2 linked regions of the Homo sapiens genome follow. The protein of the gene in region 1 purifies or fractionates together with the protein of each later gene. This does not show direct contact. Each region holds a gene or a part of one and is shown on either strand. Other genes may lie near its edges.

Region 1 (5,710 bases):
AAGTCTGCACTTACCCCATAAGTATTCATGTGTCCAAGAGAACATGATATTAAACAGCAAATAACACCATGAGAGGTTGAAAGAGATACTGCAGAAGGAAAAGCTAACAGCACTTTTCTCTTGCTATCTGAACAAGGGAACTGGGCCCCACAAATTATGTAGCCAGCCCTGACAAGGTCTGTGCTCAGCCCTGGAGCAAGGAGGTTGGGGGCTCTTCCAAGCTTATTTCTTCCTGGAGGTAGTAGCTATACATCATATTTGCTTTTCTTCTGTTCTTTAAAGTTCCCTTTTAGCTTTTATGATAATCACTTTCCATTAGCTAATATTTTTTATTTTGAGGCAGGGCCTTGTTCTGTCGCCTAGGCTGGAGTGCAGTGGCACAAACATGGTCCACTGCAGCCTTGACCTACTCAGTTCAGGCAATCCTCTTGTCTCAGCCTCTTATGTAGCTGGGACCACAGGTATGCACCACCATGCCGGGCTAATTTTTTAATTATGTAATTTTTTGTAGAGACAGGGTCTCACTTTGTTGCCCAGGCTGGTCTCGAACTCCTGGGCTCAAGCGATCCTCCTGCCTCAGCCTCTCAAACTGCTGCGATTATAAGCATGAGCCACCACGCCTGGCCAGATAATAATTTTTTATATAAAATTTTCCGCCGGGTGTGATGGCTCACGCCTGTAATCCCAGCACTTTGGGAGGCCAAGGCAGGTGATCACCTGAGGTCAGGAGTTTCAGACCAGCCTGGCCAACGTGGTGAAACCCCGTCTCTACTAAAAATACAAAAATTAGCCAGGTGTGGTGGTGGGCACCTGTAATCCCAGCTACTCAGGAGGCTGAGGCAGGAGAATCAGTTGAACCTGGGAGTTGGAGGTTACAGTGAGCCAAGATCGCGCCACTGCACTCCAGCCTGGACGACAGAGTGAGACTCAGTCTCCAAAAAAATAAATAAATAAATAAATAATTTTCCTTGTTCGAGTTACTAGTGTTGTTTCCATGTCCTGTCTGGACCCTGATGGATACATAGTTCCTGCTTATGGTCTGGTGGGACGCAGCAGTAAAGGATCCAAAGCACATTATAATCTATGAAGCTCTGCAAAACTTCAGGAATTATTAGTGTAGGGAAAAGAAAGAGCGATCAGATTATTACTGTGTCTGTGTAGAAAGAAGTAGACATAGGAGACTCCATTTTGTTCTGTACTACGAAAAATTCTTCTGCCTTGAGATGCTGTTAAACTATAACCTTACTCCCAACCCCGAGCTCTCTGAAACATGTGCTGTGTCCACTCAGGGTTAAATGGATTAAGGGCTGTGCAAGATGTGCTTTGTTACAGATGCATGAAGGCAGCATGCTCCTTAAGAGTCATCACCACTCCCTAATCTCAAGTACCCAGGGACACAAACACTGCGGAAGGCCGCAGGGACCTCTGCCTAGGAAAGCCAGGTATTCTCCAAGGTTTCTCCCCATGTGATAGTCTGAAATATGGCCTCGTGGGAAGGGAAAGACCTGACCGTCCCCCAGCCCGACACCCGTAAAGGGTCTGTGCTGAGGAGGATTAGTGCAAGAGGAAGGAACGCCTCTTTGCAGTTGAGACAAGAGGAAGGCAGGCATCTGTCTCCTGCCCGTCCCTGGGCAACGGAATGTCTCGGTATAAAACCCGATTCTATGTCCCATCTACTAAGATAGGGAAAACCGCCTTAGGGCTGGAAGGGGGACAGGCGGGCAGCAATACTGCTCTTTAAGACATTGAGATGTTTATGTGTATGCATATCTAAAGCACAGCACTTAATTCTTTACCTTGTTCATGATGCAGAGACCTTTGTTCACGTGTTTATCTGCTGACCTTCTCTCCACTATTATCCTATGACCCTGCCACATCCCCCTCTCCGAGAAACACCCAAGAATGATCATAAATACTAAGGGAACTCAGAGGCCGACGGGATCCTCCGTATGCCGAACGCTGGTCCCCTGGGCCCCCCTACTTCTTTCTCTATACTTTGTTTGTGTCTTTTTCTTTTCCAAGTCTCTCGTTCCACCTAACGAGAAACACCCACAGGTGTGGAGGGGCAACCCACCCCTTCAATTAGTAATGGCCTGCCCGAACTTCCCATCCCACCTCTGCTCCAGAGTCTGAAAATCCTACCATTAGAGAGCTATCTCTTTTGGGTGTTTCCTGTAACAACGCAAATGTCTCCAGAAAAGGCAACAATGACAAACCCTGGCCTCTGATGAAGGCCTGTTTGGCTCAGGGTTAACTAAAAGGAAAACTCAGATGTCCCATTCCTTGATCTATCCTAAATATAGTGAGAAGCACTAAATTTAACCCTGAAGGCAGCCTGCTAAATAGTTATAGAATCTGAAGGGAAACTAAAACAGGAAATAAAAGCTGGGATTATTCTGGGGCAAACAGATATTTTGAGCTGTTATCAGAACAGCAGATAAATCCACTAAACGTCTCCCCTCCATTTCCCAGCGTTAAGCCATTCTCCCTCCTCAGCTTCCCAAGTAGTTTGGGACTAAAGGGGCGTGCCACCACACCGGGCTAATTTTGTATTTTTTAGTACAGACAAGGTGTCGCCATGTTGCCCAGGCTGGTCTCCAACTCTTGACTCGTGAACTCAAGCGATCCTCGTGCCTCAGCTTCCCAAACTGTTGGGATTACAGGCGTGAGCCACGTGCCGGGCCATGTCTGTGCTTCCGAGGGTGGGAAAGATAAAGCTCACCATGGCTACGCTGATGGCTTCCTCTCCTACACATCTCACCCACAAGGGCGGGGTCCTCAACTAAGCTTAGGACTGCCTATCATTCTGCAAATGACCCACTCTACAGACATGCTGCAGCAGGGAAACCCCGCCACTGGGCAGTTCCTCATGCTGAGGAGGAGACGCCCGTCACTCCATCTCATCTGTAAAGTGAAGACTTTTAAGGCTGCCCTAATATTCATCATAATCTAACAACGAAGACCTTACCAAGGGGCGGAAAAAAAGAATAAAATACTGTGAGCGAAGGAAACAACAAAGGAATAACATTTAAAGCAATGTGCCAGGTCCTTCACACATTAACATCATTGTGTGAGGTATCATTAACATCATTTTACAAATAAAGAAACAGGGGACTTGCAGGGGGAAAGCTGCACAAAGTCACTGAACAAAGTAAGTGACACAGCAAGAATCCAAGTCAAAATCTGGAGCTGGAAAGTGAGTGGGGAGACGAAGAACCGCCTGGGCACCTTTGTGCAGGGCGGGGCTGGAGGAGGTCACGCAACTTGAAAACACCCAAGGGAGTTGGATCCTACCACCGCGGCCCACACCGTGGAGAAATACACGTCCATCAGCCTCTGTCAAGCAGGACGCGGCGGGTGCCGGCGCGGCCGGGTGGCCTGGTGCTTTCTGGGCCTCGCCCGCCACCCCGGAAGCCTGGAATCCCGGGAGTGCGCCCGGCCGCCCGGCCACGCGATCCCGGACCCACGCGGACGCCCGCCTCAGGGAAGGCCGCGCACGGCGGGGACGCGGGGCGGAGGGGCTGAGCCGGCCGAGCCACCGCCGGCGCCGCTCCAAAGCCTCCCCCGCGGCCCGAACTCGAGCTGCAGCGCGCGGCCGCGCCACTTACAGGTCATGACTCTGCAGACAAGCACCACCTGCGGCGCGGACTGAGCGCTGGAGATCCGGCGGACCGCGGCGTCGCTACGGTGGGGCGGGGACCGCGTCAGAGGCCCCGCCCCACCCCTCCTCCTGGCCCCGGCCGGGAGGAGAGAAGGGTCTGCGTTCATTCCAGTGCGCCTGTAACACCAGGACGGACCAACGAGAAATGGTTAATTGCAACACAGTCCGGAAAAAGCATGCCTCGAAAGGCAAAGGGCAAAAGGGAACGGCCTAAGTCGAGGTGGTGTGCTGGTGAATGTCTTAACAACCAGACTTTTCAGGGAGGAAAGCCCTGATTTGTAGCGTTTGCTGATTCTCCGCAAAAGGACTGAACTTCTAGCTGGTTGAATCACCTCTGTGGCCAGGTTAACACCGTATGCTGATGGGCTTGAGCTATTTGAACAAGTCTCTGTGACGGGGACGGAATGACCCTGGTTGGTTTAGGCACGCGAGACGTCTGTAAAATCTGACTACAAGGCTGCTAGGCCAACGGGAAAGATGCTGAGGGTTCAACGCCATGCCCTCAACAAGTCAGTCCTCGAATACATTGTCATCTCTTTGCTAATATCCTTTTTTGTTTGTTTGTTTTAGACAGGGTCTCACTCTGTCATCCAGTCAGGAGTGCAGTGCAGCAGTCTCAGCCCATTGCAGCCTCAACCTCCCGGCTCAAGCGATCCTCCGTCCTCAGCCTCCCAAGTAGCTGGGACTACAGGCACACACCACCACACCTAGCTATTTCTTTTCCTTTTTTCTTTTTCTTTCTTTCTTTCTTTTTTTTTTTTTTTTAAGTTTTTTACTTTTAATAGAGGTGGGGCCTTGCTATTTTGCCCAGGCTGGTCTCAAACTCCTGAGCTCAAGACCCTACTGCCTTAGCCTCCCAAAGTGCTGGAATTATAGGCGTGAGCTGCTGCGCCCAGCCTATAGACTATGATTTTTGCATTTTTATTTATTAGATTGCTTTTTAATTTTCGTGTTTTGTGTTTTTGTGCCTTGTCAGACTTGTGGAACAAAAATCCAAAACTTAACCACCTTTTGGAATGCCCCAGAATAGTTTATACTGAAACAGATCTTGGTTTGTAAAAGAACACTATAAAAACATTTTGGGGGCAACTAGGGAGATTTAAATATGAACGAGATATTTGATGCTTTTCTGAATTATTTTGTGTGCTATAGTGTTGTGCTTGTGACAATTCTTTACTCTTAGAAAATGAGGAAGTATTAGGGATGAACCATCAGAATGTTTGACTTGAAAATCGTCAGCAAAAAGAAAACACATAAGATAAAGCAAATATGGCAAAATGTTAATTATTAAATCTAGGAGGAGGACACAGCTGTTCATGGTACTAGATTAAAACTTTGTAGAAGTTTAAAATTTTAAGCTTTCATAAAAAAAAATTGGGGGGAAATACATAGCAGTTATGGTCTTTCTGCAGCTTAAGAGACTATCTGGACTTGGCTTTGTAGCAGGAAGATCTTTAAAAACCTTTTCATTTCTGCTATGCTTATTAACCTATGAGGTTTCAGGGTCAACCTGTGGTCACTTACAACCTGTTAAAAAAATTCATCTAGATTTCCAAATTTATTGGACTAACATTGTAACTAATAGTGGTCCTAAACCTGGCTGGAAATGTTATTTGAAGTGCTTGTTCAAAATGCAAATTATTTCATTTTTTTAGAAGTGGATTCTTACAGTGTTGCCCAGGCTGGTCTCAAACTCCTAGGCTCAAGTGATCCTCCCACTTTGGCTTCAAAAAGTGCTGGCCTTATAGGCATGAGCCATGGCATCCAGGTGGAGATGCCCAGTAGGCAACCGGACCAAAGCCTCAAGCTCAGAAGATGTCTGGGCTGGAAATTGACTTGGGAGTCACCAGCAGTTTTAACTAAGAGGAAGCTCTGAATTTGGATGAGAACACACAAGCGGAGTATGAAAGGCACACGCAAAAGAAGAAGGGCCTGTGGAGCCTGGGAAGGAGCCATTAGAGGAGAAGGACCAGGCCGGGCGCCACTGCCTGGTGGAGGAACAGCTGTGTCCTCCTCCTAGATTTAATAATTAACATAATCCCAGCACTT
Region 2 (3,500 bases), on another chromosome or scaffold:
CCTAGGCCCTCCTGGTTGCTCACTCTGTTCCAACTGCACTAATCCCCTCACTATTCCTGGGCATGTTCCTGCCTTCAGGACTTGGCTCTAATGCACCCTCTGCCTAGAATACTCTTCACCAGGTGTCCATGTGGGAAAAGCCCCCGATCCTTCAAGTTTCTCTTTAAATCTCATGTTGCCCATGAAGCTTACCCTACTAACCTGCCCACCTGTGACCAATCCCCCTTACCTACTACACTTCTTTCCGCCATAGAATTCATCATCTTCGTACATATGTAATTCTCTTACATATATCATTTGTTGTTTTGCTTCCCCATCAGAAAAGAGGCCCAGGAGGGCAGAATCTTTGTTGTATTCATAGATGTTAACAAGCGTCTGGGAGAGTTCCTAGCACATAATATTTTGCTGAATGTTGAAAAAAAGGAACATTTAAAAATATGAACAGAATTCTTATAAATCTAGATTTCTTCACTGCTCTTACGAAAACTCCCAATGGGAAAAACTGGGTGCACAGTACTACAACTAGAGCTGATTAGAAAAAGTATCTTGTTTAGATAAGACAAACCCTTTTCAATTACCCTGTCTCTACTATTCACAAATGTATCACAACTAATATTAGGTAACAAATAGAAACAACTCAGAAATTTCCTTAAAACCAACAATAACGTTCTTATTGAGAATACTACAGGTTGTCTCTGAACCATGGCAAATTAGAGAGTTTGTGCCCAAACGGAAGGGAGCAGCCACTATTTATTCCACTTGTTTCTGTTTACCTGTCCAGTCCTGATTTTCCAGCACTTTAAATATTTGTTTATATCCGAAGAAGAGAACTACAAGGCAAACAGTGCAAATGTAATGTAAAAAATGGTCATAGTTACACTGTGCTTTACTGAGCTAAATTCAATCATTCCTATTCATTAAACTGGGAACTTAACACATTGACCTATTAAGAGTAACGAAGCTCTATTTTTTCAAAAACACTTGGCAAGACAGAAGGTTCTTCTCTTCCCCGCAAAGTGTCAATTTCCTTTCTTTAGGAATATAAAGTCTTTAAGGGCAAAAGATGATTCTTCGAAAGTTCCTTCTAAAAAAAAAAAGCCCTTCACAACGAAAGCAAAAAAAAAAAAAAAAAAAAAATTTTTCATGAAATACAGTCTCATCAACTATCAAGAAAGGAAGAAAGATTAGAAGAGAAGTCTGAGGACAACTGGTCGAAACAAACATTTTATTCAATTCCATTAATTCACTCAACAGGTTCATCTACATACCAGACACTGTGCTAGCGTTGTAGATACAACAGTGAGTGAGACCTCTCCTGCCCTCATAGAACCTGCAGTCTTATTACATTTGGCACTGCTCTAGTCAGACAAGATCTTTTTTGGATCCCAAGACTGTCTCTAAAACACAATCACTATCCCAGCTACCTTTAGTCACTCACAAACATTTTAAGCATTCCTTGTATACAGGTATCTAACTAATAAATATTTAAAAGAAAGAAAGAAGGTAAAGTCCTATTATATGCCATTAGAAATCTCCCTCCGGGCTGACATTCATTAATCAGCACCCTTTACATGTATCTATTCAACCAGATAGGGATTCCACCTTAAATATACTAGAAGCCAAACTATCTTTCTATAGTCAATAGGGAAATTATAAAAATTCTGCCAAATCTGTGCCCAGGCGCAGTGGCTCACGCCTGTAGTCCCAGCACTTTGGGAAGCCAAGGGTGGGTGGAAGGCTTGAGCCCCGGAGTTTGAGACCAGCCTGGGCAACATGGTGAAACCCCATCTCAAGAAAAAATACAAAAATTAGCCAGGCATGGTGGAGCACACCTATAGTCCCAGCTACTCAGCAGGCTGAGACGGGAGAAGTGGCTTGAGCCCAGGAGGTCGAAGCTGCAATGAGCCATGATCACACCACTGCACTCCAGCCTGGGTGACAGAACAAGACACTGTCTCAGAAACAAAACAACAAACATTCTGCCAAACCCTTACTAAAATCATATTTCCTTGAACTATGAACTGTTAGAGATAATTTGCTCTCAGAACTGACCCCAAATAATATCTACTACATTTATCTGTGCTAATAACCATCCCTTTGATAATCTATTCCAGAAACTTCATGATCTTCAAGCTCACCAACCTTCATTTTGGGGACTCATATAGTCTTTTAAAATATTAGAATTAGATTTCTTTCTAACCATTCCTCCATTCCTAACCTCAATTATTCACAGCAGGTAAAACTTGCCTACAGGACAATGCCTCTCAACTTTTTTCACATCATCACACAAACAGAAAATGATGGACATGGTAGGAAATACTGGGTAAAGAGGCTCAGTGGCCCCAAACCCCATGCTAACTCAACTTCTCCTGCCACCACAGGACTGGGAAGAAACAATAGTTTGGCACACCTGTAAAGCATTTATGTTCTATTATGTCACTTGTTGAGCAAAGCGCTGAGTTAAGAGTTTTTATGAAGGCCAGGCCTGGTGGCTCACGCCTATTGTAATCCCAGCACTTTGGGAGGGTGAGGCAGGTGGATCACCTGAGGTCGGGAGTTTAAGACCAGCCTGATCAACATGGAGAAACCCTGTCTCTACTAAAAATACAAAATTAGCCGGGGTGGTGGCACATGCCTGTAATCCCAGCTACTCAGGAGGCTGAGGCAGGAGAACTGCTTGAACCCAGGAGGCAGAGGTTGCTTGAACCCAGGAGGCGGAGGTTGCGGTGAGCTGAGATGGCGCCATTGCACTCCAGCCTGGGCAACAAGAACGAAACTCCGTCTCAAAAAAAAAAAAAAGAGTTTTTATGAAATGAAAATTAGCATTTTATGAATTTTGCAGAAAGTCAAAAAGCAAAAATCACCCTGAAGTAATGAAAACTCAGCATTGGGAATTGCTAGCTACATGAACAAAACCAAGTGTATTTCTAAGGTCCCTCATTCTACACCTTGTGCAACTAGATCCCATAATCGTTATCTTTTGTTATCAATGACTCACTAAAAACACAAAATTGGGCTGGGTGCGGTGGCTCACGCCTGTAATCCCAGCACTTTGGGAGGCCTAGGCGGGTGGATCACAAGGTCAGGGGTTCGAGACCAGCCTGACCAACATGGTGAAACCCCGTCTCTACTAAAAATACAAAAATTAGCTGGGCATGGTGGCGGGCACCTGTAATCCCAGCTACTCAGGAGGCTGAGGCAGGAGAATTGCTTGAACCTGGGAGACGGAGGTTGCAGTGAGCCGAGATCGCGCCACTGCACTCCAGCCTGGGCGACAGAGTGAGACTCCGTCTCAAAAAAAAAAAAAAAAAAAAAACCACGAAATTGTCCTCCATATTTTCATAGACGTTTCTAAATTTATCTTTTAAAAACTAGCATTTCTGCTCCTCTAGATTTAAATTTCCTTGTTAATTATTAGTCTCCCTCCCACACTATAATCATCATTTGCAATATTCTTTGACAAAAAACACACTTTCTAAATGAACAAGGTATCTGTTCCA

The links.
Region 2: the proteins of NIT2 (region 1) and SUCLA2 fractionate together in Homo sapiens (co-fractionation; one large-scale study listed by BioGRID). This does not show direct contact.

Annotation. Positions count from the first base shown.
Region 1 is NC_000003.12:100,332,697-100,338,406, reverse strand, and holds the start of NIT2 (omega-amidase NIT2), read right to left. Parts: upstream 3,651-5,710; 5' UTR 3,616-3,650; coding exon 3,609-3,615; intron 1-3,608. UniProt on the Homo sapiens protein: Has omega-amidase activity. The role of omega-amidase is to remove potentially toxic intermediates by converting 2-oxoglutaramate and 2-oxosuccinamate to biologically useful 2-oxoglutarate and oxaloacetate, respectively.
Region 2 is NC_000013.11:47,991,274-47,994,773, forward strand, and holds part of SUCLA2 (succinate--CoA ligase [ADP-forming] subunit beta, mitochondrial precursor), read right to left. Parts: intron 1-3,500. UniProt on the Homo sapiens protein: ATP-specific succinyl-CoA synthetase functions in the citric acid cycle (TCA), coupling the hydrolysis of succinyl-CoA to the synthesis of ATP and thus represents the only step of substrate-level phosphorylation in the TCA.